Regions from separate parts of the Homo sapiens genome. Here region 1 is linked to region 2. The links come from fine-mapping of genetic effects on gene expression. A gene starts in region 2. The other region holds a variant in brackets. All regions are shown on one strand. Distances are between the middles of the regions. Region 1 has its middle 9.1 kb from the start of CMPK1. Region 2 holds the start of CYP4Z1 (cytochrome P450 family 4 subfamily Z member 1).

Evidence for each region. PIP is the estimated chance that this variant, and not a neighbour inherited with it, causes the effect. A credible set is the group of variants that fine-mapping cannot tell apart.
Region 1: its variant is the best candidate, but not a certain one, in a credible set for the expression of CYP4Z1 in skeletal muscle (FUSION, PIP 0.87).

The regions. Positions count from the first base shown.
Region 1 is chr1:47,316,599-47,332,853 of GRCh38, forward strand. No RefSeq gene overlaps it. Among named protein-coding and RNA genes, the nearest start is that of CMPK1, 9.1 kb to the right of the region's middle. The variant C/CA (reference allele first, on the strand shown) is at 8,910.
Region 2 is chr1:47,057,915-47,074,169 of GRCh38, forward strand. CYP4Z1 (cytochrome P450 family 4 subfamily Z member 1) reads left to right here and starts at 9,317. Exons shown (of 12, transcript NM_178134.3): 1 at 9,317-9,753; 2 at 10,708-10,849. The coding sequence starts at 9,577.

The sequences.
Region 1 (16,255 bases), 260 kb after region 2:
CTGTAATCCCAGCTACTAGGGAGACTGAGGCAGGAGAATCGCTTGAACCCGGGAGGTGTAGGTTGCGGTGAGCCCCGAGATCACGCTATTGCACTCCAACATGGGTGACAAGAGTGAAACTCCATCTCAAAAAAAAAAACAAAAACCTATAACTACTTTTTACATAGCATGTACACTGTATTAGGTATTATACAATGTGTTAGGTATTATACAATTAGTTATTATGAGTAGTCTAGAGATGATTTTTTTTTTTTTGAGACAGGGTCTCACTCTGTCACCACAGACTCAACTTCTGGCTGAAGTGATCCTCCACTTCAGCCTCCCTAGAAACTGAGACTACAGGCATATGCCACCATCCCCAATTAATTTTTGTTTTAAGATGATTTAAAGTATAAGGATGACTGTACATTGGTTATATGCAAATACTATGCCATTTTATATAAAAGACTTGAGTATCTGTGGGCCAAATTTGGTATCCCTGGGGTTCCTGGAACCAATCCCCCATGGATACAGAGGGAAGACTGTTTATATGGTATTAATATTCCTTTGATAATTTGTAATTATTTCCACAGCTAATGTGGTAATAGTGCTTTCTCCACCAGTATCTGATATTATTCTCCTAAAAGCCAAAGTAGAGAAGTGTTATCCCTATTTAACAAGAGATGAAATGTGTTAAGATCCCACAGCTAGTTAGTGCAGAGACAGGATTTGAAATGTCACTTATTTTCCTCAACACTCCACTTTTGTTAGTTTCCTGAGCAATATGGAAATATCTTAAAGTCCGAGCTGTATTTGTAGGCTGCTCTGGTCAGAATAAGCAGCTACCCTTTTAAGAGAGTGAAAACACTATTCTGAAAAATGTATCAAACTAGCAAAGAAATATGTGCTCTAAGACCAGGTGTGGTGGCTCACGCCTGTAATCCCAGCACTTTGGGAGGCTGAAGTGGGTGGATCACCTGAGGTCAGGAGTTCAAGAACAGCCTGACCAACATGGTGAAACACCATCTCTACTAAAAATACAAAAATTAGCTGGGCGTAGTGGTGGACGCCTGTAATCCCGACTACTAGGGAGGCTGAGGCAGGAGAATCACTTGAATTTGGGAGGCAGAGGTTGCAGTGAGCTGAAATCACAACACTGCACTCCAGCCTGGGCAACAGAGTGAGACTACATCTCCAGAAAAAACAAAAAAGAAAGAAAGATGTGCTCTGTAGAGCATCATTCTCTGCTTTCCTGAAAAAATTCTTGGCATCTAGGGTACAAATTTTAAGGGGAATGATGGTCAGTTCCTGAGCTCTAGTGTGAGAACAGGAAGGGCCTCAGACAGCCATGCATGTCTGACAAACTGTTGGCCAGCCCAATAAGGAGCTCCAGAGCAAAGATTGCCCATTACAGGAGTCCCACATTAGGCAGAAATGGCTAGGCCCTAGAATTCTTGCTGTGCCTAGTCATTGCCTGAGGCTTCCAAGAAAGAACAAGCACCAAAGCTAAGGCAGATTCCAAAGGAGGCTGTCAGGCAACTGCAGTCTTTGCAGCTGACTGGAAAGTTCTTTCTGGAAAGAGATCTAAGTCATTGAGATCACTGACACATCTCAATGACGGCCATTGGTTACATGAAGTGCAAAGGCCCTGAGTTACATGGGAAGCCTTTGGAAAATTTTTTTTTTTTTGAAACAGAGTCTCACTCTGGTGCCGGGCCTGAAGTACAGTGGTGTGATCTCAGCTCACTGCAACCTACGACTCCTGGGTTCAAGTGATGAACCCTGCCTCAGCCTCCGAGTAGCTGGGATTACAGGCACCCGCCATTACGTCCAGCTCATTTTTTGTATTTTTAGTAGAGACAGGGTTTCACCATGTTGGCCAGGCTGGTTTCGAACTTCTGACCTCGTGATTCATCTGCCTCAGTCTCCCAAAGTGTTGGGATTACAGGCGTGAGCCACCACCCCCAGCCTGGAAGATTTTATATACAGGACTGACATAATCTGATTTTAGGTTTTTGTTTGTTTTGTTTTGTTTTGTTTTTTGAGATGGAGTCTCGCTCTGTTGCCCAGGCTGGAGTGCAGTGGCGCCATCTAGGCTCACTGCAACCTCCGCCTCCCAGATTCAAGCATTTCTTGTGCCTCAGGCTCCCGAGCAGCTGGGAATACAGGCCCCTGCCATCACGCCCAGCTAATTTTTGTATTTTTGGTAGGGACGGATTTTCACCATATAGGCCCTGCTGGTCTCAAACTCCTGATCTCAGGCAACCCTCCCTCCTCGGCCTCCCAAAGTGCTAGGATTACAGGCGTGAGCCACTGCGCCTGGGTGAGGCTATGATTTTAGGTTTTAAAAGGACCATTGATTGCTATATTGAGAATAGACTGTTTGGGGCAAGGGCAGAGATGCAAGGGGACCAGTTAAAAAACTGCTGCAATAACTTAGAAGAGAGATTGATGGTAGCTTGGACCAGAATGGTAGCAATGGAGGTGGTGAGAGGTTATTGTATTCTGGATATATTTTGAAGGAATAATCAATACTATTTGATTCCAGATTGAATTTAGCATGTAAAAGAAAGGAACGCTGTGTCAGCTTCTCATGATTTATGATTTTCTTTAAAACTACTTTGATATTAGAAAGAGAAATGTAGTATGAGTTAGATAAAAAGGAAGGGGTGAGCCTAACACATAACCCCCCACTCCTTAGGTGTGGGCTGCACATAATGACATTTCTTCTAAGTGTATAGTATTGGGTTGGGGGAGAAAGGCAGAGGGAGGAAAGTGACTTTACAATGGGAAAACCTGACAAACACTACTTCAGGTGGGTCATCAAGCCAACCTCAATAGTTATGCTGATAGTAGGTACACTTCTGTTTCCTTTTTTTGTTTTTTAGAGACAGTGCCTTGCTGTTGCCCAGGCTGGAGTGCAGTGGCACAATCATAGCTCACTGCAACCTCAACCTCCTGGTCTCAAATGATCCTCCTACCTCAGCCTCCAAGTAGCTGAGACGACAGGAGGGTGCCACCATGCCCAACTTTCTTTTTTTCCTTCAGTAGCAAGTATTCTGTCTATATTGTCCAGTCTGGTATTGAACTCCTAGCCTCAAGTACTGGGCCTCCAAAGTGCTCGGATTCCCAAAGTGCTGGGATTGCAGGCGTGAGCCACAGCACCCAGACTACTATGCACACTTGATATGATGTGATTAAAATGGCACTTTAGGCTGGGCACGGTGGCTCATGCATGTAATCCCAGCACTTTGGGAGGCCGAGGCAGGCGGATCACCTGAGGTCGGGAGTTTGAGATCAGCCGGACCAACATGGAGAAACCCCGTCTCTACTAAAAATACAAAAAATTAGCCAGGCGTGGTGGCACATGCCTATAATTCCAGCTACTCGGGAGGCTGAGGCAGGAGAATTGCTTGAACCCGGGAGACGGAGGTTGTGGTGAGTCGAGATCATGCCATTGCACTCCAGCCTGGGCAACAAGAGCGAAACTCCGTCTCAAAAAAAAAAAAAAAGGCACTTTAGGCCAGAGGCGGTGACTCACGCCTGTAATCCCAGCACCTGGGGAGGCTGAGGTAGGTGGATTACTTGAGGTCAGGAGTTCGAGACCAGCCTGGCTAACGAGGAAACCCTGTCTCTACCAAAAAATATAAAAATTAGCCGGGTGTGGTGGCATGCGCCTGTAGTCCCAGCTACTCAGGAGGCTGAGGTGGAAGAATCGGTTGAACCCGGGAGGCAGATGTTGCAGTGAGGTGAGATCATACCACTGCACTCCAGCCTGGGCGACAGAGTGAGATTCCGTCACAAGAAAAAAGCAAGGGGCACTTTATCTCTGTGGTCTTCCTCCCATTAACCTATAACCTTGTATTATTCTGAGAAAGACAGACAAATTCCAATAGTGAGGAATCCTGTAAAATGCCTGACCTGTACTCCTCAAAACTGTTAAACTCATCAAAAACAAGGAAATCCTGAGAAACTGCCAGAGTCAAGAGAAGCTTAAAGAGATATGATAACTAAATGTAATGTGATACCGTGGATGGGATCACGGACCGAAAAAAACCTCATTAGGTAAAAACTAAGAAAGTCTAAATATAGACTTTAGTTAATTATAATGTACCAATATTTGTTCATTAACTGTAACAAATGTACCTACCATACTAATATAAGATGTTAATAATATGAAAAACTGGGTGTAGGGTATGGAACTTCTGTACCATGTTCTCAATTTTTCTATAAATATAAAACTTCTAAAAAAAATAAAGTATTGTCTGGTACACTCGCTTGCGCCTGCAGTCCCAACACTTTGGGAGGCTGAGGTGGGTGGATTGCCTGAGCCCAGAAGATCAAGGCCAGCCTGGGAAACATAGTGAGACCCCATCTCTATTCATTATAAAATATAATTTTTAAAAACAAACAAAAATCCTTCCAGTAAGAGACAATAGCCAAAAAAAAAGTGTTTTAGAGGCAAATTTTTTTTTTGAAACGGAATCTTGCTCTGTTGCCCAGGCTGAAGTGCAGTGGCTGGACCTCAGCTCACTGCAACCTCCACTTCCTAGGTTCAAGCAATTCTCCCTGCCTCAGCCTCCCAAGTAGCTGGGATTACAGGTGCCTGCCACCACACCTGGCTAATTTTTGTATTTTCAGTAGAGACGGGGTTTCAGGATGTTGGCCAGGCTGGTCTTGAACTCCTGACCTCAGGTGATCCGCCCACCTCGGCCTCCCAAAGTGCTGGGATTACAGGTGTGAGCCACCGTGCCTGACTGAGGCAAATTCTTAGGATTAAAAAAATTAAAGAGTCTATTACAAAGAAAAAAGGAAAGTACAAGGTGAGAGCTGAGGCATGTGCTAATCTTTAGAACAACTAAAATAGCATGTCTTCCTTTTTGCTTAGTAATAACTCAAATACCAATGAGAGTTCAATTAAACATTTTATTAACACTGGACTTTTTTTTTATGGAGTCTCGCTCTGTCTCCCAGGCTGGAATGCAGTGGCATGATCTCGGTTCAAGCAATTCTCCCTGCCTCAGCCTCCCAAGTAGCTGGGATTATAGGCAACCGACACCACTCCCAGCTAATTTTTGAATTTTTAGTAGAGACAGGGTTTCACCATTTTGGCCAGGCTGGTCTCGAACTTCTGACCTTGTGATCCGCCTGCTTCGGCCTCCCAAAGTGCTGGGATTACAGGCGTGAGCCACCATGCCTGGCCTACCACTGGACTTCTAAGCAGGATATACACTTAACACTATGCATAAATACTTTTTGACTGAAATGAAAAGTAATTATTGACTTCATTTTAGGATAGGAATGATTCAGCATTATATTTAGGAGAGCTTGGAAGTGACTAAAGAGCTTATTTCCCCAGATGTTTTCTTTTTTTTTTTGAATTATAATGCAATAATCAATAGCTTTGGGGATCTGACCCCAATTCTGCCATTTAATTTCTCTGAGATTGATTTTCCTCATTTGCATATTGTACATTATCATAAAAAAGAGTTAATGCATAATGAGTGTGAAAGTTAAAGGGGCCACCCATATATTATTATTAGTCTAGGTGTACTGGCAGTTGACATTATTAATAAATGAGCAACACATTGCCCTGTGTTCAAAGAGATTAAGGGAACTGATTTGTTAAATTAGAAAGAGAATAAGGGCTGGGCGCAGTGACTCACATCTGTAATTCCAGCACTTTGGGAGGCCAAGGTGCACATATCACCTGAGGTCAGGAGTTTGAGACCAGGCTGACCAACATGGTGAAACCCTGTCTCCACTAAATATACAAAAAAATTAGCCAGGCATGGTGGCAGACGCCTGTACTCCCAGCTATTCGGGAGGCTGAGGCAGGAGAATCTCTTGAACCCGGGAGGGGAGGTTGCAGTGAGCCGAGATCGCGCCACTGCAGTCCAGCCTGGGTGACAGAGCGAGACTCCGTCTCAAAAAAAAAAAAAAAAAAAAATTAGCCAGGCGTGGTGGCGCACGCCTGTAGTCCCAGCTACTCGGGAGGCTGAGGCAAAAGAATCGCTTGAACCTGGGAGGCCAAGGTTGCAGTAAGCCGAGATTGCGCCACTGCACTCCAGCCTGGCGACAGAGCGAGACTCCATCTCAAACAAAAAGAAAGAGAATTAAGTTTAATGGAATAAAATCTACAAATGCTATACCAAGGACCTACTATACACTAAGCTTTAGTGCTAGCTGGTATGGGGAGTTGAAAGGACATGATAAGCATAGAACAGGGAAGGCACAATTTTATAGGCTGTGTAATAAGAGGTAATTACCCAAAGCAAATATGAATAATTGTTAGATGACAGGCCAGTTTAAATAGACTGAAGAGATACCATGCTAGTCTTTGATCTCTGTTTATATATATTTATGTGTCATTTCTTTTTTTTTCTCTTTTTTTTTTTTTTTTTTGAGATGGAGTCTTGCTCTGTCACCCAGGCTGGAATGCAATGGCGCCACCTCGGCTCACTGCAACGTTCGCCTCCCGGGTTCAAGCAATTCTCCTGCCTCAGCCTCCTGAGTAACTGGAATTACAGGCACCCACCACCATGCCCAGTTAATTTTTGTATTTTCAGTAGAGACGGGGTTTCACCATGTTGGTCAGGCTGGTCTCAAACTCCTGACCTCAGGTGACCCACCCACCTCGGCCTCCCGAAGTGCTGGGATTACAGGCGTGAGCCACACCGCACCTGGCCATTCATGTGTCATTTCAAGACACTGTGGAATTGCTATTACTTTTGGCCCTTACAGAGAAAAGCTACTGGTTTTATTTTTTAAATTTCCAAGTTCTTTAGTTTGCTTCACAGATAACCATTTCCAGTTTGTCATTTTTTTAAAAGTATGAATTTGTTGCATAAACAATGTTATAACAAGAAAAAAATTGTAAAAGGAAAAATTCATCCAGAATTCTATATTCTAACTGCTGTAGACTGAATATTTGTGTTCCCCACAAAATTCATATGTTGAAGTCCTAACCTCTAATATGATAGTAAGTAGCTGGAGCCTTTGGGAGGTGATTAGGTCATGATGGCAGAGCCTTCATGAATGGGATTAGTACCTTATAAAAGAAACCTCCAGAGAGCTCCCTTGCTCCTTTCTGCCCTGTGAAGTCACACGGAGAAAATGGCTGTTTATGAACCAAGATAGCAGGCCCTCACTAGATACCAAATCTGCCAGCTCCTTGATCTCTAACTTCCTATCTTTGAGAGCTGTGAAAAATAAATTTCTGCTGTTTATAAGCTACCTGTTTATGGTATTCTGTTATAGCAACCCAAAGACATCAATTGTTTTTCCTTATTCCTTTTCAGTCCCTGTCCACATGACATGGTCTTTATGATTAGACTAAGTAAATGTTCAGTGCTATAAACCCTGATGGTGCCTGCTAACAGACTGGCTATGGGGATTAAAGAGCTATTGTTATCACCAGGAACAGGGAAGTTGGAATCTGTTATTTCTCCTCTTCCTGGTTCTGTTACTTATTACTGTACTAAGTTTCTCCAAACACCCAACTTTCCCTTTCTCAATTTACACTTCTAAGCTAAATTGTACTACTGATTTTTAAAAACAACTACAGCTTTGCTTTTAAGACACATATTTTTATTTTATTTATGTCTTTTTTTTTAAAAAAAAAGATGGGGTCTCTCTCTGTCACCCAGGTGGGAGTGCAGTGGCACGATCTCAGCTCACTGCAGCTTCAACTTCCTGGGCTCAAGTGATCCTCCCACTTCAGCCCCCTCTCCGTCCCAAGTAGCTGGGACTACAGGCGTGCACCACCACACCAGGCTAATTTTTGTATTTTTTTGTAGAGATGGGGTTTCACCATGTTGCCCAAGGTGGTCTCAAACTCCTGAGCTCAGGAGATCTACCTGCCTTGGCCTCCCAAGGAGTGCTGGGATTACAGGCGTGAGCCACTGCACCCGGCCTTAAGAAACATATTTTTAAAGAAGATTGCTAATCTGTCAATTTATGCCAAATTCCTTTTAGACACTTAAAAATCTTAGAAGAGGCAACAATTACAATTTATGTCTCAAGTCATGTTGACTTATTTTACTTATTTTTTAAAGTTTGGATTATTTGGAATGAATACAATGATCAAATATCACATACTGGTAAATTCTCTAAAAGTATTTGCTAAACTGAGCTAATGTACCATCATCCTGATTTTGCAGACAAAGAAATTGCAGGTATAACCAACCTACCTAAGCTTGTAAAGTTAGCAAAGATGCTGTAAATTCAGCTAAAGACAGTCAGTCTCCCTTCACTGGTCTGCCTGCAGTTCTGCAGTATGAAGCTAAGCTCAGCTGACAAAGTCACTCCCAGGAGAGCAGTCATATTGTCTGCTGCCAGATTTGTCACATCACATTTTTTTTTTTTTGAGATGGGCTGGGCGTGGTGGCTCAGAGATGGAGTCTCACTTTGTCACCCAGGCTAGAGTGCAGTGGCATGATCTCATCTCACTGCAACCTCCACCTCCCGGGTTCAAGCGATTCTCCTGCCTCAGCCTCCCAAGTGGCTGAGATTACAGGTGTGTACCACCACTGCCAGTTAATGTTTGTATTTTTAGTAGAGATGGGGTTTCACCATGTTGGCCAGGCTGGTCTCGAACTCCTGACCTCAGGTGATCCACCCACCTCGGCCTCCCAAAGTGATGTGATGTGGGCCAGACGTGGTGGCTCACACCTGTAATCCCAGCACTGGGAGGCCGAGGTGGGCGGATCACCTGAAGTCAGGAGTTTGGGACCAGCCTGGCCAACATGGTAAAACCCCATCTCTACTAAAACACAAAAAATTAGCTGGGTGTGGTGGTGTGACCTGTAGCCCCAGCTACTGGGGAGGCTGAGGCAGGAGAATTGTTTGAACCCGGGAGACGGAGGTTACAGTGAGCCGAGATTGTGCCATTGTATTCCAGCCTAGGTGACAGAGCGAGACTGTGTCTC[C/CA]AAAAAAAAAAAAAAAATACTATGTTTCCCTGAACTAATGTTCAGAATCTTTGAGAACAGGTCCTTTGATAAAGCCTCACAACAATAACCAAGCAAATCTGAGTAGCAGGGACCTTCATTTTAGAAACTCTATTAAGTATCAGGTTATGCAATGTACTAAGCATCACTCCAGGAAATAGATTACAATATAATAGACAGCTATGAAGGCCTGAAGACAAAGCATGCACCTGCTTGCTTAAGAGAGTGAATCATGTAACAATAACACACGGTCATGCTCTTAGTTCAATGCTGTACAAAGAGTAATCAGACAGAGTCCCTTCCTTCATAGAGCTCTAAATCTAGTGTGGAGATACCCATAACAACATAGGCCTACAACAGAAATAACAAGGGACGTGATGGGGGAGGGTAGAAGCACAAAAGAGGTACACCTAACCCAGTCTTGGGAGGTTGTTTTTTTTTTTTTTTTTTTTGAGACGGAGTTTCGCTCTTGTTGCCCAGGCTGGAGTGCAACGGCGTGTGCCTGTAATCTCAGCTACTTAGGAAGCTGAGGCAGGAGAATTGCTTGAACCCAGGGGGCGGAGGTTGCAGTGAGCCGAGATCGTGCCACTATACTCCAGTCTGGGCGACAGAGCCAGATTCTGTCTCAATCAATCAATTTTTCAAAAGAGATGGGGTCTCACCATCTTGCCCAGGCTTGTCTTGAACACCTGAGCTCAAGTGATCCTCCTGCCTTGGCCTCCTAAAGTACTGGGATTACAGACATGAGCCACCATGCCCAACTTTTTTTCTTTTCTTTTTTTTTTTGAGACAAGGTCTCACTCTGTCATCCACGCTGGAGTGGCATGATCACTGCTCACTGCAGCCTCAACCTCCCGGGCTCAAGCAATCCTCCTGCCTCAGCTTCCTGAGTAGCTGGGATCACATCTGTCTAATTTTTCTAATTTTTTCTAAAGACAGGGTCTCACTAGATTGCCCAGGCTCAAGCTGAATTCTGAAACATGAATATAACATAGGCAGCAAAGGGGAGTAGTCAAGTCTGGGAAAATGAAAGTATGGGAACAGATATCTATCTCTAAGAGGCAATTATGATAAATAGGATTGATGAATGGTGACAAAGCTTATTTCCTAATCCCCTACAAAGGGTGCTAGGAACATAGATATACCCTGGGAATAGTATGCAGGTACTGAATGTATGTGAAAAGACCTAATGTACTCAATGATAAACATCTATGGGTAAGGGTGGGTTTTAAGGATAGCTCTTGCTATACATCTTTCTGAGATCAGTCTTCTGGTCTGTAACATAACATATTTTGACGGGATTTTTGTGAGTATGGAACTTTTCATGGAGTCAGTGTTGTATAGAAATGCACATTTTAAAGTCATACATGCTGAATTTGAATTTGACTTTGTCATCTATTGCCTTGTGGGGTTTTTTTGTTGTTGATTTTTTTTTTTTGAGACGGAGTTCCACTCTTGTTGCCCACGCTGAAGTGTCATGGCGCGATCTTGGCTCACCGCAACCTCCATCTCCCAGGTTCAGGCGATTCTCCTGCCTTAGCCTCCCGAGTCGCTGGGATTACAGGCGCCCGCCACCACACCCGGCTAATTTTGTATTTTTAGTAGAGACAGGGTTTCTCCAAGTTGGTCAGGCTGGTCTCAAACTCCCGACCTCAGGTGATCCACCTGCCTCAGCCTCCCAAAGTGCTGGGATTACAGGCGTGTGGTGAGCCACCGCGCCTGGCATTGCCTTGTGGTCCTGGCTCTATGTAAAACGATAGTACTAACTTCACAGCATTATGAGAATTTCATAGGCAAGGCAAGGCTGATATTTAACTAATACCCAACTGGAAAGGCTGTATTGGTGATTAAAATATTGAAACACGCGGGGCGCGGCGGCTCACGTCTGAAATCCTAGCACTTTAGGAGGCTGAGCTGGGTGGATCACTTGAGCCCAGGAGTTTGAGACCAGCCTGGGTAACATGGCAAAATCCTGTCTCTACAAAGAATAGAAAAATAAGCGAGGCATGGTGGTGCATACCTGTAGTCCCAGCTACTCAGGAGGTCGAGGCTAAAGTGAGCTGTGATGCGCCACTACACTCTAGCCTGGGCAGCAGAGTTAGACCTCGTTTCAAAAATAAAGAAACAACAAAAATATTGAAACATTTACATATGAGTTGGCATATGGCTACTTCCCTAAGCACTTCCAGTGTCCTCCAACTCTCCCCTGGGACACACTGGACCTCCCCACAATCTAGCAATTAGAAGATATCTGAGGCCAGGTGCGATGGCTCACACCTGTAATCCCAGCACTTTGTGAGGCCGAGGAGGGCAGATCACCTGAGGTCAGGAGTTCAAGACCAGCCTGACCAACATGGCAAAACCCTGTCTCTACTAAAAATGCAAAGTCAGCCGGGCGTGGTGGCGCATGCCTGTAATCCCAGCTACTCAGGAGGCTGAGGCAGGAGAATTGCTTGAACCCAGGAGGTGGAGGTTGCAGTGAGCCGAGATTGCACATTATACTCTAGCCTGGGCAACAAGAGTGAAAGTATGTCTCAAACAAACAAACAAACAAAAAGACAGCACAGAAATCTTTACAGGTATTCTGATAGATTTATTTTAAAAGTTGGAATATTATCCAAAAAATGCCTGGCACATAGTAGACATTTTTTTTTTTTTTTTTGAGACGGAGTCTCGCTCTGTCACCCAGGCTGGAGTGCAATGGTGTGATCTCGGCTCACTGCAACTCCGCCTCCCAGGTTCAAGTGATTCTCCTGCCTCAGCCTCCTGAGCAGCTGGGATTATAGGCACCTGCCACAATGCCCAGCTAATTTGTATTTTAGTAGAGATGGGGTTTCATCATGTTGGCCAGGCTGGTCTCGAACTCCTGAGCTCAGGTGATCCACCCATCTTGGCCTCCCAAAGTGTTGGGATTACAGGCGTGAGCCACCATAGTATACATTTAATAGATATTAATCAAATTTATTTAGCCTATAGATTCAATCTATGGATATAGTTAGGAAATGCCCCTTTACTGGGTGACATCCACTTATTCTATATATATTTATTGGGACATACTATTATTGCATATCTGGTGGCTTACCCCTAGGTGTAATTCAATGCTTCTCTGCCACCTCCAAGGAGCACTAATATATGGCTAAGACAAAATGGATTCCTTGGAGACAAATTAGGATCAAGATGCTAAGTGGTAGACCTTTCACTGTGGACAAGCAATAGGATTGAATTTTCAAGCATCAGTGTAGTATTGTGTCTTTTATTAATTCCATGTACTCGGCTTGGCCCCATGTGACTGCCAGTGTGATCAAATAGGCCCAAAGCTACTTGGAGATCCTAACTTCCTTGGCTTATTTCTCTTTTTGAGTGTTCCTGTTGATCTGGTCTAGCTTGCCAGGGAGGAGTCTAAGAGAGGGAAGGTCATCTAGGCCTCCCTTGATTATACAAGAGAGTTTTCTCTAAGCTCTATAAGATCCATCTCAGCTTACTAAATCTAAGGTTCCACAGAGGGCTTTTGGACCCTGTAGAAACTTTAAAACATGGCACCAAAATTCCTGACACTCCTCTTGAGAAGTAGGGCCTATGTACCCTCTCCTTGAATCTGGGCTCTGTGTGTGGTTGACTGAAAGAATATGGTGAAAGAAGAGTTGCTGTGGCAGTTTCTAAACCGAGGTTTTAAAAACTGGCAGTTTCTACTCCCCATCTCCTGGAATGTTTACTCTTGAAGAGTAACATTTAGCCATCATGCTGTAAAAAGAAACCTAAGCAACTCATGGTAAACTCCATGGTCTTTAGGGAAAGAGCGTTTCCACAATGTTAGGGAGAGCCAAGAAAAATTTAAATAGTGTATTTTCCAGCTTCCCGTCTCTACACCAAAATTAAGTATTGACACTCACAAGAGGAAAAAAGTTATCCTCTGTCAGCCATGTGAATGAGCCTTCTTGGATATGGATCCTCCAGCCCTCAGCTGAGCTGCCCCAGCTGATGCCATGTGGGATGAAGATTAGCTGTCCCCACTGAGCCCAGCCCAATTTTCAGGTAATAGGCAAAATAAATGTTTCTTGTTTTGGCTGGACGCCGTGGCTCACGCCTGTAATCCCAGCACTTTGGGAGGCTGAGGCGGGCGGATCACTTGAGGTCAGGAGTTTGAGACCAGCCTGGCCAACATGGTGAAACCCCATCTCTACTAAAAATACAAAAATTAGCCGGGCATGGTGGCGGGTGCCTGTAATCCCAGCTACCCAGGAGGCTGAGGCAGGAGAATCGCTTGAACCTGGGAGGCAGAGGTTGCAGTGAGCTGAGATGGTGCCACTGCACTCCAGCCCAGGCGACAGAGCAAGACTCCATCTCAACAACAACAACAACAAAAGGCAGGGCTTGGTGGCTTATGCCTGTGATCTCAGCACTTTGTGAGGCCGAGGCGGGCGGATGACCTGAGGTCGGGAGTTCGAGACCAGCCTGACCAACATGGAGAAACCCCGTCACTACTAAAAATACAAAAAAATTAGCCAGGCGTGGTGGTGCATGCCTGTAATCCCAGCTACTTGGGAGGCCGAGGCAGGAGAATCGCTTGAACCCGGGAGGCAGAGGTTGTGGTGAGCTGAGATTGTGCCATTGCACTCCAGCCTGGGCAACAAGAGTGAAACTCTGTCTCAAAAAAAAAGAATGTTTCTTGTTTTAAGTCATTGATTTGGGAATGGCTGTTTTGTAGCAATAGATAACTGGAACAGACTCAAAGGGCCAACTAGTCATAAAGTGTTTTTTTGCCTCACCTTGTCATTCCTGGAAATGACTCCCTGGAAAACCCTTCGCAGAGATGGGTGTCTGGGTTTCAGTTTTTAGAAATCTTTCCACATTAATATTTTCCTTAGTTGCCTAACATAACTGGCAGAAGGAGACAGGCAAGGAACAGGACATTAAGTACTCAACCAACTGTGGTCATAATTATCCAGAAAGTTTTTTTCTCTGTGAAAAAAAAATCACCACATATTGCTTTAAGTAGGTTTACTAGGAAGTTTCAGACCCAAACCCCTGTGTGGAATCCTTAGTTCTGGTGTTCTATCATGGAAACAACAAAGACTGTCTTTTTGTCTCTAGCCCAAGGCCTTCACTAAAAGTATGCCAATAGCTTCCTAGCCCTTTTTCTCACAGACACCATATCCTTAAGATCTTTTAACTCTAATTGTGTGAACAAAGGAAAAGAAGACACATTTGTTTTGATATGGCCTTTTTCATACTCCTGCTACCCATTCCCAATATGACCAATTGTCCTTGTTCTTGGCTGCCCATGTCCTAGCTCCTCCTCCCCAGAAGCTGAAGGGTTTGGAGCCTTCTTTTTTTTGAGACAGAGTCTTGCTCTGTCGCCAGGCTGGAGTGCAGTGGTGCGATCTCAGCTCACTGCAACCTCCACCTCCTGGGTTCAAGCAATTCTCCTGCCTCAGCCTCCCAAGTAGCTGGGATTACAGGCATGCACCACCACATCCAGCTAATTTTGTATTTTTAGTAGAACTGGGGTTTCACCGTGTTAGCCAAGCTGGTTTCCAACCTCAGGTGATCTGCCCACCTTGGCCTCGCAAAGTGCTGGGATTACATGCATGAGCCGCTGCGCCCGGCCGTGTTTTTTTATGTGAAAATTCACATATCTAAACGTGGGTCCCTGTTTTTGTATAGCCTTCAAGCTCAAAATAATGTTCACATTTTAAAATGGATTTTAAAAATAAAAATAAATAATATTTTGGGACACATGCAAATTATATAAATTCAAATTTCAGTATCCATAGAAAAATGTTTTGTTTTTGTTTTGAGACAGGGTCTGGCTCTGTTGCCCAGGTTAGAATGTAGTAGCACGATCTTGGCTCACTGGAGTTTGCACCTCCTAGGCTCAAGGGCTGCTCCCACCTCAGCCTCCACCTCCTGGGCTCAAGGGATCCTCCCACCTCAGCCTCCCATCTCAGCCTTCCGAGCATCTGGGACTACAGGTGCACACCACCACCTGTAGTGTAGTGTAGGCCTGGCTGGGCGCGGTGGCTCATGCCTGCAATCCCAGCACTTTGGGAGGCCAAGGCAGGAGGATCACTTGAGCCCAGGAGTTCAAGACCAGCCTGGACAACATGGTGAAACCCCCTCTCTACTAAAAATACAAAAATTAACCAGGGGTGGTGGCAGGTGCCTGTAATCCCAGCTACTTGGGAGGCTGAGGCAGAAGAATCGCTTGAACCTGGGAGGTGGAGGTTGCAGTGAGCCAAGATGGCACCACTGCATTCCAGCGTGGGTGACAGAGTGAGACTCTATCCCCCCCAAAAAAATTTTTTTCCAGCTGTGATAATAAAAAATATCCCATTCTCCTTTCTATGGTGGGAAGGAAAAGGTAGAAGTTGTGGAGAGGAAAGAGGTAGAAATTAAAGGGAGAATGGAAAAGAAGGGCAAACAAAGGCAAGTAGGTGAGGAGAAGGACAGGAAAAGAGACAGGGAGAAGGGAGGGACTTATAAATGGGAAAAGAAGGGTAGGAAGGATGGGAATAAGTAAAAACAACAACAACAAAAAGAAAGCAAGGAGAGAGAGTAGAGATGGGGAAGAGCCAGAAAATGCTGAGTGAGCTAAGAAAGGACCACCAAAAGAAAAAGGAGAATGGGGGTGGTCAGACAGAGGGCTATACCACTATCTTCCTCTCCTGTTTGCTTTCGTTTACTAACGTCCTGGTCACTCTGCCCTAAACAGCTTAGTTCCTTTCCCATAGTCTTTGTTCACTCCAGCACTATCTGACTTGAACTTGTACCTGTACGACAAATCTAACACCCTGGACTCTTAGTTCTAAAAACAGGACATGCATTCTGCCTCAGTCTTCCATTCCCATGGTCTCACCCTGGACCTTGGCATCATCAGAAACTCAGAAGCTGGGACATTTCAATTCCAAATATCCCACTCAGACCAGCAGCATCCATACTGCCAGAGCACTTGCTCATATACCCCACTGCAATCTTTCTTGGGCCAATGCTCTAAGACATTGGTCCCTTTCCCCACCACCCTCCAACCCCTCCACTACCAGGCTTCATGTGCCATTATTTGCTTTCCTGTATGGTTTTGATTCTACACACAGCATCATGAACATTCTCTTCCAAACACTCTCATCACTTGGCCCCCTCTCTCTGTTGTACTTGCCAGGCAAAATCCCAACCCTCAGTAAATGCAACAAGCTGCCTTCTCTGCCTGTGCCTGAATGGCCAAACATCTTCAATTATTTTGAATCCGTTACCTCAAATATCAAATGAGCTCTTAACGTTGGCCAGAAGGCCTTTTAAAGGCCTGTATGCACCAAGGCTCAGTTCTTGAACGT
Region 2 (16,255 bases):
TTTGGATTCTAGTTTTCTGAAGAGTGTTAATTCTTATCTTAGGAGGCAGTTCAACTACTGGTTGATCACCATGAACTTCTGCAACTTTGGTTTTACATTTTGCTTGTGCAAATTCTTTTTTAAAAAAACTATTTATCAAAAAAAACTTTACTTGGTTCTGAATCAAATTAACTTACTGTGTGAGATCACATATCTGTGCCATCAAAAGCTTTTCATCTCCTGAATCAGGGCATCATATTTTCTCTCTATGAAATAAATTAGGTCAAAGCATTTCATTTCCTCTAAATATTTTGGCTTCTACTACAAAGTTGTTTTCACAGTTGAATAAAATTTTGTGAATTTGCAGATAATTATTTTTATTATAATTATAATTTTTCACTTTTAAAATGGTGTCCTTGCTCCAATAAAGACCTTCAGGCTGAGGTAGTTTGCTGGTATGATTCCAGGCTCAGAAACATTTTCTGGTTCCCCTACACTCTGGCTAAGCTGAGTGTTGCACTTAGGACATCCTCGATCACCACCTCACTTTGTGAGTGTTTTTCAATTAGTTCTTAGAATTGTATTTTATAAATTTGAGGTGCTAAGTATCCCCTGCATGGCATGCTTTCCTGCTTTTACTGCTTATTCAGTGCCATCCCAGAGGACCTACGGGCAATCCTTGACCCTAACACAATCCTCATTCTGTTTCCAGAGCACTGCAATGTGGACTCGCATTTCTTCTCTCTCCTTATCTTTCTCTCTTTCATACACCACACCTGTAAACACATGTATATTCCTGACTACTACCAATATTTTTGCCCTGCACCAGAACCACATAAGTGGTTCCAGTATGTAGTGCTCTTTCTTGTCCCTACTCTACTCAGACCTATGTAGAGTCCTTTCTATAGTAATAGACTAGCACTCTTTACCTCCACAACCCTGGCAGGGACAGGCAGAGACAGGGGCCTATGAATATTATTTAACTATTTTTTGGTAGCAATATCATTATTTATCTTTCATGACAAGTAGATTCACTGTGGTGTTCTAATTTTTGTAGTTATTTATTTGAATACAGATATACATCTTAATAGTATGTATTTGCCCAACTTATAAAAGCCAGTGAAGGATAAAGGCTAATATAATACAATATAAATTAAATCATGAGAAATATTTACAAATTAATCTAAACTTTAAATAGAACAATTTGCAAGTATACATTTTTGAAACATTGCCTGAGATTCATAAGAACAAAGTAATCAAAGATACTAGCATATTTTGGCCAATAAATTTTATTAACAATTTTATACTTACATAATATTTTTATATGTCCCAATGCCTTCATAATTAATTCTGAGACATTTTTGCCTAAACCCTGAGGTTAACATTTTACATAAAGCAAAATAAGTTGCAGCTATAGAAGGTTACCATACAAATAGCCAGATAATTAAATGAAAAACAAACTTCATTTTGTGTTCTGTGGTTGAATATATAATCAAGGTAAAATGAAACACAAAGTTACTTTCTTTGTATCCTGAAGTCACTTAGAGCCTATCCAAATTTGGAAGATAGTTTTATAAAATCTAAATGGGAGATCAGCCATTCATTTCCAGTTGGACCCATGTGAAAACAATAATTTGCAACAGGCTGGCCAATAATTTCCTGACTCTGCCCATGTAATCTCCTGGAATTTGGCTACGTAAATATCATGTCTGGTTTTGGCATACCTGCTGTACTTCTCAATTTTCATGTCTAAACATCACCTGCTTGCATGTAGGAAAACCCAAAAGGCTTTCTCATACTGTGTATGAGAAGAACCTGATGAAAGAACATTTAATTTCCCTAATTTAGGTAGCAAAGAAGGCTGGGCTGTTTCCTAAGCATCCCCTGGGACGGAGGCTGATGGTCCCCTATGGGGCACTTTGTTTTAAGCAAGCATTTATCTGATCATGCACCTTCAGCCTGACTGTGAGTTTTAGAAAATTCTGCTCCCACCCTTTTCTCCTCTCCCCAAGACTTTTACTTGCTCATTATGTGAAGTCCAGGGCACTCTGCAAACATAAATATGAAATCACTCTTTTCTCCTTGAAAATTTATTTCATGAACCAATATTAAGTATGGCCAAGTTATGCTTGCATCATGTATTGGGAAATATCCTAGTTTTGTCTTGGATTCATTTAATAGATTTATTTATCTGATAAGCAGAAATTCATTTACATTTTTAAATATTTGTTAGACAAATTCACTTCATTTCTATGATCCCTTTCCAATGTTTGCTCAAAACTTCTTGTAAAATACTTTTCATATACTTTTTAAAAAATTAATAGATTATTGAATGTAAATGGGCTAAATGTCCCACTTAAAAGGCAGAGTGGCAAGCTGGATAAAAGAGCAAGACCCAATGGTATGCTGTCTTCAAAACACCCATCTCAAACATAATGAGACTCATAGGTTCAAGATAAAGGGATGGAGGAAAATCTACCGAGCAAATGGACATTAAAATAAAAGCAGGGACTGCAATCCTAATTTCAGACAAAACAGACTTTAAACTAACAAAGATCAAAAAAGATAAAGAAGGGCATTACATCAAGGTAAAGGGTTCTATTTAAGACCTAGCTATCCTAAATATATATTCATCTAATACAGGAGCACCTGGATTCATAAAGCAAGTTCTTAGAGACTACAAAGAGACTTAGACTCACACACAATAATAGTGGCAGACTTCAACCCTCCACTGTCAGTATTAGACAGATTATCAAGGCAGAAAATTCACAAAAATATTCAGAACCTGAACTCAACAGGACTAAATAGATCTGATAGACCTCTACAGGACTCTCTATCCCAAAACAGCAGAATATATATTCTTCTCATTGCCACATGACACATACTTTTAAATCAGCCACATAATAGAACATAAAACAATTCTCAGCAAATGCAAAAGAACCAAAATCATACCAAACACACTGTCAGAGCACAGTGCAATAAAAATAGAAGTCAAGATTAAAGCAATCATTCAAAACCATATAATTACATAGAAATTAAACAACAGGCTCCTGAATGACTTCTGAGTAAACAATGAAGTTAAGGAAGAAATCAAGTTCTTTGAAACTAATAAGAACAAAGGTAGAACATACCAGAATCTCTGGGACAGAACTAACAGTGTTAAGAGGGAAGTTCATAGCATTAAATGCCCACATCAAAAAGGTAAAAAGATCTCAAATTACCAATCTAATACCACAACTGAAAGAATTACGGAAGGAAGAGCAAATCAACTCCAAAGCTAGCAGAAGACAAGAAATAACCAAAATCAGAGCTGAGCTGAAAGAAATCAAAACACAGAAAACTATTCAATGTTTGCTTTCTGAAAAACATAATAAGATATATAGGGCATTAGCCACACTAATAAAGAAGAAAAGAGAGAAGATCCAAATAGACACAATTAGAAATAACAAAGAGGATGCTACCACTGACCCCACAGAAATAAAAATAACCATCAGAAACTACTATGAACACCTCTATGCACACAAACTAGAAAATCTAGAAGAGCAGAATAAATTTCTGGACACATACACCTTCCCTAGACTGAACCAGGAAGAAATCAAATCCCTAAACCGACCGATAATGAGCTTCAAAATTGAATGAGTAATAAATAGTCTACCATCCCAAAGAAGCCCAGAACCAGATTAATTCATAGCCATATTCTACCAGATGTACAAAGAAGAACTGGTAGCATTCCTACTGAAACTATTCCAAATAATTGAGAAGGAGGGACTCTGCTCTAGCTCATTCTATAAGACCAGCATCATCCTGGTACCAAAACCTGGCAGAGACACAACAAAAAAAGAAAACTTCAGACCAATATTCTTGATGAACATTGATGCAAAAATCTTCAACAAAATACTTGCAAACCAATTTCAGCAGCACATCAAAAATCTAATCCATGATGCTCAAGTAGGCTTCATCCCTAGGGTGCAAGGTTTGTTCAACATACACAAATCAATAAATGCGGATCATCACATAAGGAGAACTAAGTATAAAAGTCACTTGATTATCTCAATAGATGCAGAAAAGGATTTTGATAAAATTGGACATCACTTCATGTTAAAAACTCTAAATAAACTATGTATTGAGGAACATTCCTCAAAATAATAAGAGCCATCTATGACAAACCCATATTAGCATCATAATGAATGGGGAAAAGATGGAAGCATTCCCCTTGAAAACCAGCACAAGACAAGGATGCCCTCTGTCACCACTCCTATTCAACATAGTATTGGAAGTCCTGGCCAAAGCAATCAGGCAAGAGGAAGACATAGTTTGAAGATGACAGATAGCAGGCAGAACTAGCTTGCAGCTCCCACTTGGACAGAACAGTGTGTGAAGACTCACATCATGAACTTTTACTCCAAGAACCACTGCAGGAACATACCGGGAAAGCTAAGAGAATCTACAGACCTTTGAAGTAACTGGATTACTGCTGCAGGCTCCCTGAGAAGCCAAAAACTGTGATTCTGCTTCCTTTCTCAATGAGGAGGCTCGTGGTCTGGAGCAAGTTCTCAGCCCTGGTCACTGGCTGCCTGGAAATAGACTCATTGCAGCTGGGGAGGGCACAGTAGGAGTGAGACTGGCCTTTAGGTCTCCAGGCTGTGTGGGAGCAGGGTGAGCCCTCTGACTACCGGCTTTCCCCCACTTCCCTGGTGACCTGTATGACTTATCAGAGACAGCCATAATACCCCTGGGAATATAGCTCCATTGGACTGGGAACTACACCCCCATCCCCCACAACAGCTGCAGCAAGCCCCGCCCAAGGAAAGGCTGAGTTTAAACATGCCTACCCTGACCCCACCTTGTGGTCTTTCTCTACCCACCCTGGTAGCCAAAGACGAAGGTCATAATCACTTGGGAGCACTATGGCCCTGCCCACCACCTGAGAAACCTGAATACATAACCAGGTGTCTCTACAGCAAGTTTGCATCTTTCCTATAGGACCACAGCTGATGCACTCTTGAAAGTTCCATTTCCTGGCTGGAGGCCAACCAACACAAAACCAGTGCACTAACAAAAACAAAACCAAGGACCCTCACAGAGTCCACCTCACCCCTCTGCTACCTCCACTGGAGCAGGCACTGGTATCCATGGCTAAGAGACCTGAAGATGGATCACATCATAGGACTCTTTACAGACACTCCCCAGTAGCAGCCTAGAGCCTCGTAGCTCTGCTGGGTGGCTAGACCCAGAAGAGCAAAAATAATCACTACAGTTTGGCTCTCAGGAAGCCCCACTCCTAGGGGAAGGGGGAGAACATCACATCAAGGGAGCACCCCTTGGGACAAAATAATCTGAACAGCAGCCCTTGAATCCCAGATCTTCCCTCTGACATAGTCTATCAAAATAAGAAGGAACCAGAAAAAAACAATTCTGGTAATATGACAAAACAAGGTTTTTTCACACCCCCAAGAGATCATATCAGCTTACCAGCAATGGATCCAAACTAAGACAAAATCTCTGAATTGCCAGAAAAAGTATTCAGAAGGTTGATTATTAAGCTAATCAAGGAGGCACCAGAGAAAGGTGAAGTCCAACTTAAAGAAATCAAAAACATGATACAGGATATGAAAGGAAAATTCTTCAGTGAAATAGATTGCACAAATAAAAAACAATCACAACTTCTGGAAACTGAACACACACTTACAGAAATGCAAAATACACTGGAAAGTCTCAGCAATAAAATCAAACAAGCAGAAGCAAGGCCTTAACAGCTCAAAGACAAGTCTTTCAAATTAACCCTACCCATCAAAGACAAAGCAAAATAATTTTTAAAAATAAACAAAGCCTCCAAAAATTTGGGACTACGTTATATGTCCAAAACTAAGAATAATTGGTGTTCCCAAGGAAAAAGAGAAATCTAAAATTTGGAAAACATATTTGAGGGAATAATCAAGAAAAACTTCCCTGGCCTTGCTGGAGATCTAGACATCCCAATAAAAGAAGCTCAAAGAACACCTGGGAAATTCATCACAAAAAGTTCATCACCTAGGCACATAGCCATCAGGTTATCTGAAGTCAAGATGAAGGAAAGAATCTTAAGAACTGTGAGGCAAAAGTGTCAGGTAACCTGTCAAGAAAAACCTATCAGATTAACAGCAGATTTCTCAGCAGAAACCCTACAAGTTAGAAGGGATTTGGGTCCTTTTTTTTTTTTTTTTTTTTGAGATAGAGTCTCACTCTGTTGCCCACACTGGAGTGCAGTGGCGCGATCCCAGCTCACTGCAACCTCTGCCTCCTGGGTTCAAGTGATTCTCCTGCCTCAGCCTCCTGAGTAGCTGGGACTACAGGGCACACCACCACACGCCTGGCTAATTTTTCTATTTTTAGTAGAGATGGGGTTTCACCATGTTGGCCAGGATGGTCTCGATCTCCTGACCTCGTGATCCACCCACCTCAGCTTCCCAAAGTGCTGGGATTACAGACGGAGCCACAGTGCCCAGCCTAGGGTCCTATTTTTAGCCTCCTTAAACAAAACAATGGTCAGCCAAGAATTTTGTATCCAGTGAAACTAACCTTCATCAATGAAGGAAAGATAGTCTTTTCCAGACAAACAAATGCTGAGAGAATTCACTACTACCAAGCCAGCACTAAAAGAACTGCTCAAAGCTCTAAATCTTGAAACAAATTCTCAAAATACACAAAAATAGAACCTCCTTAAAGCATAAATCTCACAGGATCTACATAACAAAAACTCAATTAAAAAAAAACAAGGTTATTCAGGCAACAAATAGCATGATGAGTAGACTAGTACCTCACATATCAATACTAATATTGAGTGTAAATGGCCCAAATGCTCTACTTAAAAGAAACAGAACAGCAGAATGGATAAGAAATTACCAACCAAATTTCTGCTGTCTTCAGGAGACTCACCTAACACATAAGGACTGACATGAACTTAAGGTAAGTGGAAAAAGATATTCTATGCAAATGGACACCAAAAGTGAGCAGGAGTAGCTGTTCTTATACCAGACATAACAACTTTAAAGCAACAGCAGTTTAAAAAGACAAAAAGGGACATTATATAATGATAAAAGGATTAGTCCAACAGAAAAATACTGCAATTCTAAATATATATGCACCTAACACTGAAACGCCCAAATTTATAAAACAATTACTATGCGATAAACAACAACACAATAATAGTGGGGGACTTTAATACTCCATGGACAGCACTAGACCGGTCATCAAGACAGAAAATCAACACAGAAACAATGGACCTAAACTATACCCTACAACAAATGGACTTAACAGATATTAACGAACATTCTACCCAACAATTGCAGAATATACATTCTATTCATCTGTACATAGAACATTCTCCAAGATAAACCATATGATAGGCCACAAAACAAGTCTCAGTAAATTTAAGAAAATCAAAATTATATCAAGTACTCTCTCAAACCACAATGGAAAAAAAATTGGAAGTCAACTCCAAAAGGAACCCTCAAAATCATGAAAATACATGGAAAATAAATAACCTACTCCTGAATAATTTTGGGGTCAACAATGAAATCAAGATGGAAATTTAAAAATTCTTTAAACTGAACAATAATAGTGACACAACCTATCAAAAACCCTAAGATACAGCAAAAGCAGTGCTAGGAGGAAAGTTTATAGCATCAAATGCCTATATCAAAAAGTCTGAAAGAGCAAAAATAGACAATCTAAGGTCACACCTCACAGAACTGGAGAAAGAACAATCAAAACTCAAACCCAGCAGAAGAAAAGAAATAACAAAGATCAGGGCAGAACTAAATGAAATTGAAACAAAAAAAATACAAAAAATAAATGAAATGAAAAACCTGGTTCTTTGAAGAGATAAATAAAATTGATGAACCATTAGTGAGATTAACGAAGTAAACAAGAGAGAAGATCCAAATAAACTCAATTAGAAATGAAACAGGAGCTATTACAAACTGATACCAGAGAAATACAAAAGATTATTCAAGACTTCCATGAATGCCTTTATATGCATAAACTAGAAAACCTAGAGGAGATGGATAAATTCCTGAAAATATACCACCCTCCTAGGTTAAACCAGGAAGATATAGAATCGCCGAACAGACCAATAACAAGCAGTGAGATTGAAATTGTAATTTTTTTTAATACCAACAAAAAAAAAGTCCAGGACCAGATGGATTTACAGTTGAATTCTATCACACATTCAAAGAAGAAGTGGTACCAATTCTATAGACACTATTCCACAAGATAGAGAAAGAGAGCATCCTCCCTAAATCACTCTGTGAAGCCAGTATCATCCTAATACCGAAACCAGGGAATGACATAACAAAAAAAGAAAACTACAGACCAACATCTTTGATGAACATAGATGCAAAAATCCTCAATCAAATACTAGTGAACTGAATCCAACAGCATATCAAAAAGATAATCCACCATAATCAAGTGGGATGCAGGGATGATTTAACATACCCAAGTCAATAAATGTGATACACCACATAAACAGAATTAAAAACAAAACCACATGATCATCTCAATAGCTGCAGAAAAAGCATTTAACAAAATCCAGCATCCCTTTATGATTAAAACTCTCATCAACAAAACTGGCACACCTTAAGGTAATAAAAGCCACATAACAATAAACCCACAGCCAACATTATACTGAAAGGGGAAAAGTAGAAAGCATTCTCCTTGAGAACTGGAACAAGAGAAGGATGCCCACTTTCACCACTTCTATTCAACATAGTACTGGAAGTCCTAGCCAGAGCAATCAGACAAAAGGAAGAAATAAAGGGCATTCAAATTGGTAAAAAGGAGGTCAAACTGTCACTGTTTGCTGATGATATGATCGTATACCTAGAAAAGCCTAAAGACTCATCCAAAAAGCTCCTACAGGATGCAAAATTAATATACACAAATAAGTAGCTCTGCTGTACACCAGCAGCAACCAAGCTGAGAATCAAATCAAGAACTCAACCCCTTTCAAAATAGAAAAAAAAAAAACTTAGGTATATACCTAAGATTTTGGGTGACGATAATGTGTCATTGTAGGTTCATTAAATGTAACAAGTGTTATACTCTGGTGGAGGATTTTGATAATCAGGGAAGCTGGAAGGGAGGGGTGATATATGGGAACTCCCTGAACTTTCTGCTTAATTTTTCTGTGAACTTGAAACTTCTCTAGAAAGATAAATTCTATCAGAAACATAAACAAAAAAGAACAGAGAATGAGAGTGGGGGAGATTTTTTACAAGAATGTATAGAGGTGTGACAAAGGATGACTAGATGGGAACTTTTAGATTCTGGAAGGGGACAGCAGTGCAGCAAAGCTTTCATATGGGTGTGAGCTGTCATGCACATGGCTCCTATCTGAAAATCTTGTTCTTCTAGAATCCAGGTCTGCTGGCCAACATCTCAGCAGTTTTCACCCTGCAGACTTAATTAGGCTTCCTCTTCCTTATGTCCCCTCCCTGAATATGGCATTTTGAAAGCCCAGTGTTGCCCAGGGGGCATCTCCTTTGTGTTTATGAGAGACCTGCATTCTCCCTGGCTCAGTTCTCTCAGGCTCTCCAGAGCTCAGGACCTCTGAGAAGAATGGAGCCCTCCTGGCTTCAGGAACTCATGGCTCACCCCTTCTTGCTGCTGATCCTCCTCTGCATGTCTCTGCTGCTGTTTCAGGTAATCAGGTTGTACCAGAGGAGGAGATGGATGATCAGAGCCCTGCACCTGTTTCCTGCACCCCCTGCCCACTGGTTCTATGGCCACAAGGAGGTAAGAGGAGAAAATTAGTTGGGGAGGTTAAGGGACAGAAAGATGAGGTATTAAAAAAAAACAGCACAGACTGGTGGGGCATTATGTAATATGCAAAATGCTTTCACACCAATCTCATTGTGATTTTTACAAAAATTCTATGATATGGGGAGGAAAGATATTGTTATTCCTGTTTTACAGATAAGAAAACTGAAGCCTAAAATAGAAATGCAACTTTCCTGTGCTACCCACCTCATAAATGACAGAAATGAAACTTGAACCCTGGTCTTCTGATTCAAGGCCAAGGTCTTTACTATTCTCAGGACTCTGGGTGTTCTAGAGAGAAATAGACCAAGCCAATTGTTAACAGGAACTATACCAAGATGCTACAGCTTCTAATGAAGCTGGAAATAGGAAAACATTTAGCAAATTAGAAAGGAAAGTTGAAAGATGAGCAGCAACCAAAAGGAGTAAAAGGCATGTGAGACTTCGCTGCTTTGGAGGCAGATAAAGCATGAGTGGGTATATCCAGAGCAAAGATGAGGTAGGGCATCAGTGGTTACTAACGGTTTACCTTGTGCCAGGAATTTTATGTTTATAATTTCACTTAATTTTCATGGCAGCTTTGTAAAATATATTTGGTCTTCCTATTATACACGTGAGGAAATCATGGCCCTGATGACCTAGATAATGAATAAGTGTCAGATTGGGATTTGAACTTAAATCTCCAAAGTTGACGCTGGAGTGAGAAGACCAATCGCTCAGCAACAGGTCCTGAGCACTTGCCCAGGGCCACGAAGATTCTGTGGAGGTGCTGGAGACACATGGAGAAGAAAACTTGCCTTCAACAGATGTGAACCTGTCTGATGGGGTGGTGTCCACAGATCCTCAACTTAGCACATGGTCCATCCGAGGGAAAGGGGTCCTCCTGGGGTGACAACCTTTACTAACCAGTCATGACTTATCTTATGACAGTTTTACCCAGTAAAGGAGTTTGAGGTGTATCATAAGCTGATGGAAAAATACCCATGTGCTGTTCCCTTGTGGGTTGGACCCTTTACGATGTTCTTCAGTGTCCATGACCCAGACTATGCCAAGATTCTCCTGAAAAGACAAGGTAAAAACCAAGAGGGGCTCACAGTACAGAGCAGCAACAAAGAGGGTCTCAGGGTGTCTGTGGCACTAGGGAAGGACAGGTTGAAGCATTTTTAAGGGAAATCCATCATTTGATATGTTGAAGGGAAGATTCCATGTCCTCCTCAACATCATAGTCAGGACTCTATTGAGGGCTGTTGTAGAGGATTCTCTGATCCATTTTCAAGCAATCTTCTCTCCCTACATGGCAAATTTTTTCTGATGCTTCCATCACATTTACTTACCTCAGACCCCCAGGACTACCACTTACCATCACTGTGAACATACAGTGGGTTGGGCATGCAGTGGTGGTTTGCTTACAATTGGCTTAACGCCAGTGCTGCACAGAGATGAGTGTTCCCCATAGATGCTTTGCCCACTAATGTTGCCTGTCCTCTGGGAATGGCCAGTGCCAGGTTGGAGGCTCTGGCAAGTGGACACCAGTTCTCCATCTGGTCCCTAGTGTGGGAATTCCGTGGAATTGCAGAGCTGCTTCTTGGCCGTGGCAAGATGTGTGTAGGATTCCCCCACTGGGCTTTCCTCAACTGCCTGTTGGCATATAAGGCTGGCCTTCGCCTCACTCTCCCAGCTACCTACATGAGTCATTCAGTTATAAAATGCCTCCATACCACTCTTGGTGCTTCTGCAAAATTTCAAGCAGCCTGTGGCTCTCTCATTTCACAGGGCACTCTGCCAGAATCACCATCTCAGCTTTCTTCCTGGTAATGGTGCAAGAAATGTCTGGCTATCCAGTTTCAAACTTTACTCTGCTCCCCTTTATGCTCTGCTCTCACCTTTGGACCTTTGCCCAAAAGGGATGAAAGAGGAAAGTGATTGTTTCTCCTTTGGAGTTATTTTCTCTTCTTTATCTACAAATTCTCTCTTCAGTGTGTTCACTCCCTTGAGAAGGGAGGCTTAGTTTCTGGCTGTTTTTCTTTTTTTGTGGTTGGTTGTAAGGGCATCTGGGCAGGCCATACAGGGAAAGCCATCCTTCCTGTTCATATTTTCTTCAGTCCCCATTGTCTTCAACTCACAACCTTAGCTCCTTCCCAGAGAAGCCAAGAATTTCTCTCCCTCTCTTGCTTTTTTTCTCTTACTGTTTTGTTTTCTTTTCCTTTGGTTTGTATTCCCTGCTGGTGCCTAAAATTGTCTCCTCCTCAGAGAAAAGGATAATTTTATGCCTTGAAGTGTGATAACTGTACAGTTACATGAGAAAAGAGCAGAATAATATACAGAGTATGGGATGTTAAGTTATTTATCTGCCACACATTAGTACTTCTTTTTGAGTCCCACTGCAGAAGCACGGTGGCCAAAAAAGGAGAGCTGAGAATCCTGCTCTTATTATTTCTGGCCAGACCCACCCAAATCATCTTATCCCCAGCTTTTTATTTTGAAAATTTTCAACCCTACAAGAGAAATTTTGAACACCCATTGTACCCTTCTCTAGTGTCATTAATTGATATCATATTCCCATATGTGCTTTTCTTTTAATTACATTCATTTTATTGTGGTAAAATATACATAAACTAAAAATTTACCATTTTAAATCACTTTTAAGTATACAATTTAATGGCATTAAATACATTTACATTGTTGTGCAACTATCACCGCCATCCATCTTCAGAACTTTTTCATCTTCCCAAACTGGAACTCTGTACACATTAAACTCTAACTCCCCATTTTCCCCTCCCCCCAGCCTCAGGCAACAACCATTCTACTTTCTGTCTTTTTAAATTTCCCTATTCTAGGTACCTCCATAAGTAGAACCATACAATATTGTCCTTTTGTAACTGGCTTATTTCATGTAGCATAATGTCCTCAAGGTTCATCCATGTTGTAGTATATATCAAAACGTCCTTTCTTTTTAAGGCTGAATTTCCATTGTATGTATGTACCACATTTTGTTTATCCATTCCTCTGACAATGGACACTTGGATAACTTCTATCAGTTGGCTTTTGTGAATAATGCTGTCATGAACATGCATGTACAAATATCTGTTTGGGTCCTTTCAATTATTTCAAGTTGATACCAAAAAGTGGAATTACTGAGTCACATGATAATTCTATATATAATTTTTTGAAGAACTGTGATAGCATTTTCCACAGTGGCTGCACCATTTCACATACCCACCAGCAATGCACAAGGGTTCCAATTTCTTCACGTTCTCACCAACATTTGTTATTTTCTGGGGATTTAAAAAATAATAATAATAGCTACAATGGCTCACACCTGTAATCCCAGCACTTTGGGAGGCCAAGGCAGGCAGATCACTTGAGCCCTGGAGTTTAAGACCTGAGCAACATGAAAAAATCCCATCTCTATTTAAAAAAAAATAGACCAGATGCAGTGGCTCAAGCCTATAATCCTAGTACTTTGGGAGGCCAAGTCAGGCAGATTACTTGAGGTCAGGAATTCAAGACCAGCCTGGCCAACATGGTGAAACCCCGTCTCTACTAAAAAAAATACAAAAATTAGCCAGGCGTGGTGACACATGCCTGTAGTCCCAACTACTTGGGAGGCTGAGGGAGGAGAATTGCTTGAACCTGAGAGGCAGAGGTTGCAATGAGCTGAGATAGTACCACTGCACTCCAGCCTGGGTGACAGAGCAAGACTTCGTCTCAAGAAAAAAAAATAATAAAAAATATGTTGTATTATTTAAACTAATACTAATAATAGCTATCCTAATGGATGTGAAATGGTATCTTATGGTGGTTTTTATTTGCATTTCTCTAATGATTAATTATGTTGAACATCTTTTCATATGCTTACTGGCCACTTATATATCAACTTCGGGGAAATGTCTATTCAAGTTTGCTGCACCTTTTTCAATTGGTTCTTTGGTTTCTTTTGTTGTTGAGTTGCAGTAGTTCTTTATATCTTCTGGATATTAATCCTTATCAGATATATGATTTGTAAATATCTTCTCCCATTCTGTTGGTGTCTTTTTTACTCTGTTGATAGTGTTCTTTGGTGAGCAAAAGTTTTTTATTTTATCAAGTCCAGTTTATCTATTTTTTCTTTCACTGCCTGTGCTTTTGGCATCATATCCAAAAAATTATTGCCAACTCCTATGTCATGAAGTTTTCCTTATGTTTTCTTCTAAGAGTTTTAAGTTGTAGCTCTCACATTCAGTTCTTTGATTCATTTAGTGTTAATTTTTTATATGGTATAAAGTCTGCATTTGCTCATAGATGGATGGATGATAGATAGATAGATAGATAGATAGCCAGAGCCAAACAACTTTTTATGCATAAGTTTTATCTGAGTTAATAGAGGTTAAAAAAATAGGGATTTTCTATTTCTTCTCCATTTTTCAGCTTTCCCTATCTATAATGAGGAACTTTCCTCCTCTCCCCACCCCCATCTGCCTTTCTCTCACTGTCTCACTTTCTGTCCCTCTGTTTCTCTTTCTGCATACCAGTAAGGATTCATGGATTGTTAAGAAATCAGTGTATTGAATTTCATTATCATCATCTTTTTTGATGGCCAAATTGTCCCAGATATGGAGAAGGAGACAAAGCAAGAGAAGAGGCTGGTAGACATGGGCCCAGTCATTCAGAACTTTGTAGGCTGAGTAATGGTGAGCATCAAAGGAGAGAAGTACTGTGAATATCTGTGTGTTTTGAAACATCACTCAGACAGCTGTATGATGAATGGCTGGAGGGAATCAAGGCTGGAGACCAGGAATCCACCTTATCCTGCTGCACTGTCCAAAGGACAGATGATGGAGGCCTGGACAAAGGTAGAGGGGTGGAGGTGGAAATAATTGTATGAATTCAAGAGATACTAATGAATGTACCAATATTTTTGACATGGGGGTATCAAGCTGTCAAGCAGTCCCTAAGCTACTTAGCTGGTTCACTGCACATTCATAAATTCAGTCAGCAAAAAGCCAGTGGGCCTGAATGGATTTAGACTGTTTATTACTCATGGCATAATAGGTATCATGAGCTTCACATTAACATCGGCCCCACTATCTCCCTAAGTCCTATAGGGGCAATGGAGAGGAACTCAGGTTAGTACTGTGCACACCAGGGTCTGTGTTACATTTGAGGAATTCAGACACTACAAGATCCTGACCATATATAGGGGCTATTGCCAAAAATGCTCTTCCTCACCCCTAGAAATAGGCATTGTCTTTTATGTGTGTGTGGCAAAATACACATAAGGTTTGCCATTTAACCGTTTTAAAGATCCAATTCAGGGACACTAAGTATATTCACAGTGCTATCCACCTATCATCTCTGTCTAGTTCCAGAATTTTTCATCAGTCCAGACAGAAACCTCATACCAATTTTAAGCAGTTATTCCCCATTCCTCCCTTGCCCCAGTCACTGGCAACTACTAATCTGCATTTTTGTCTCTATGAATTTACTTATTCTGGATTTTTCATATAAATGGAATCACACAATATGTGACCCTTTGCATTTTGCTTTTTTCACTTAGCATAATGTTTTCAAGATTCATACATTTTGTAGCATTGTTTCTTTTCATGAATTATATTCTACTGTATGAATATACCACATTTTGTTTATGCATTCATCTGTTAATAGACCTTTGAATTGTTTCAACTTTTGGCCATTATGCATAATGCTGATTTCATAAAAATGAAAAGCTTTTGTGTGTCAAGGGCCACTAAAAGCAACCTGTGCCTCCTGGGTTCAAGTGATTCTCCTGCCTCAGTCTCCCAGGTAGCTGGGACTACAGGCGTGCACTACCAAACCTGACTAATTTTGTATTTTTAGTAGAGATGGGGTTTCACCATGTTGGCCAGGCTGGTCTCAAACTACTGACAAGTAATCCACCCGCCTCAGCCTCCCAAAGTGCTGAGATTACAGGCATGAGCCAACGCACCAGGCCAAGACCAATTTTATTTTAATTTGCATTTCCCTAATGACTGAATATCATCTTATTGTTTGCCCATTGATGCTGAATATCATCTTATTTGTTTGCTGGCCCATTGTTTATCTTTGGAGATGTCTATTCAAGTCCTTTGCCCGTGATTAATTGGGCTGTCTTTTTATTGTTCAGTTGTAATAGTTTTTAAATATATATAGTACACAAGTTTTTTTATCAGATATATGATTTGCAAACATTTTCTATTATTTTGTGGTTTGTCTTTTAACCCTTTTAGTGGCCCTTGATACACAAAAGCTTTTCATTTTTATGAAATCTAACTTATTTATTTTTCCTTTTGTGGCCTGTGCTTTTACTATCATTTTTAAGAAACCATTGCCCAGTCCAAATTCATGAAGACCCTCCCCTATTTTTTCTTCTAAGAGTTTTATAGTTTTGACTCTTATACATAGGTCTTTAGTCCTTTTTTTGGGTGAAAGAAGCCTAAAGTAGGGGCATTTGTTTATTTATTTATTTATCTTTTATTTTAGA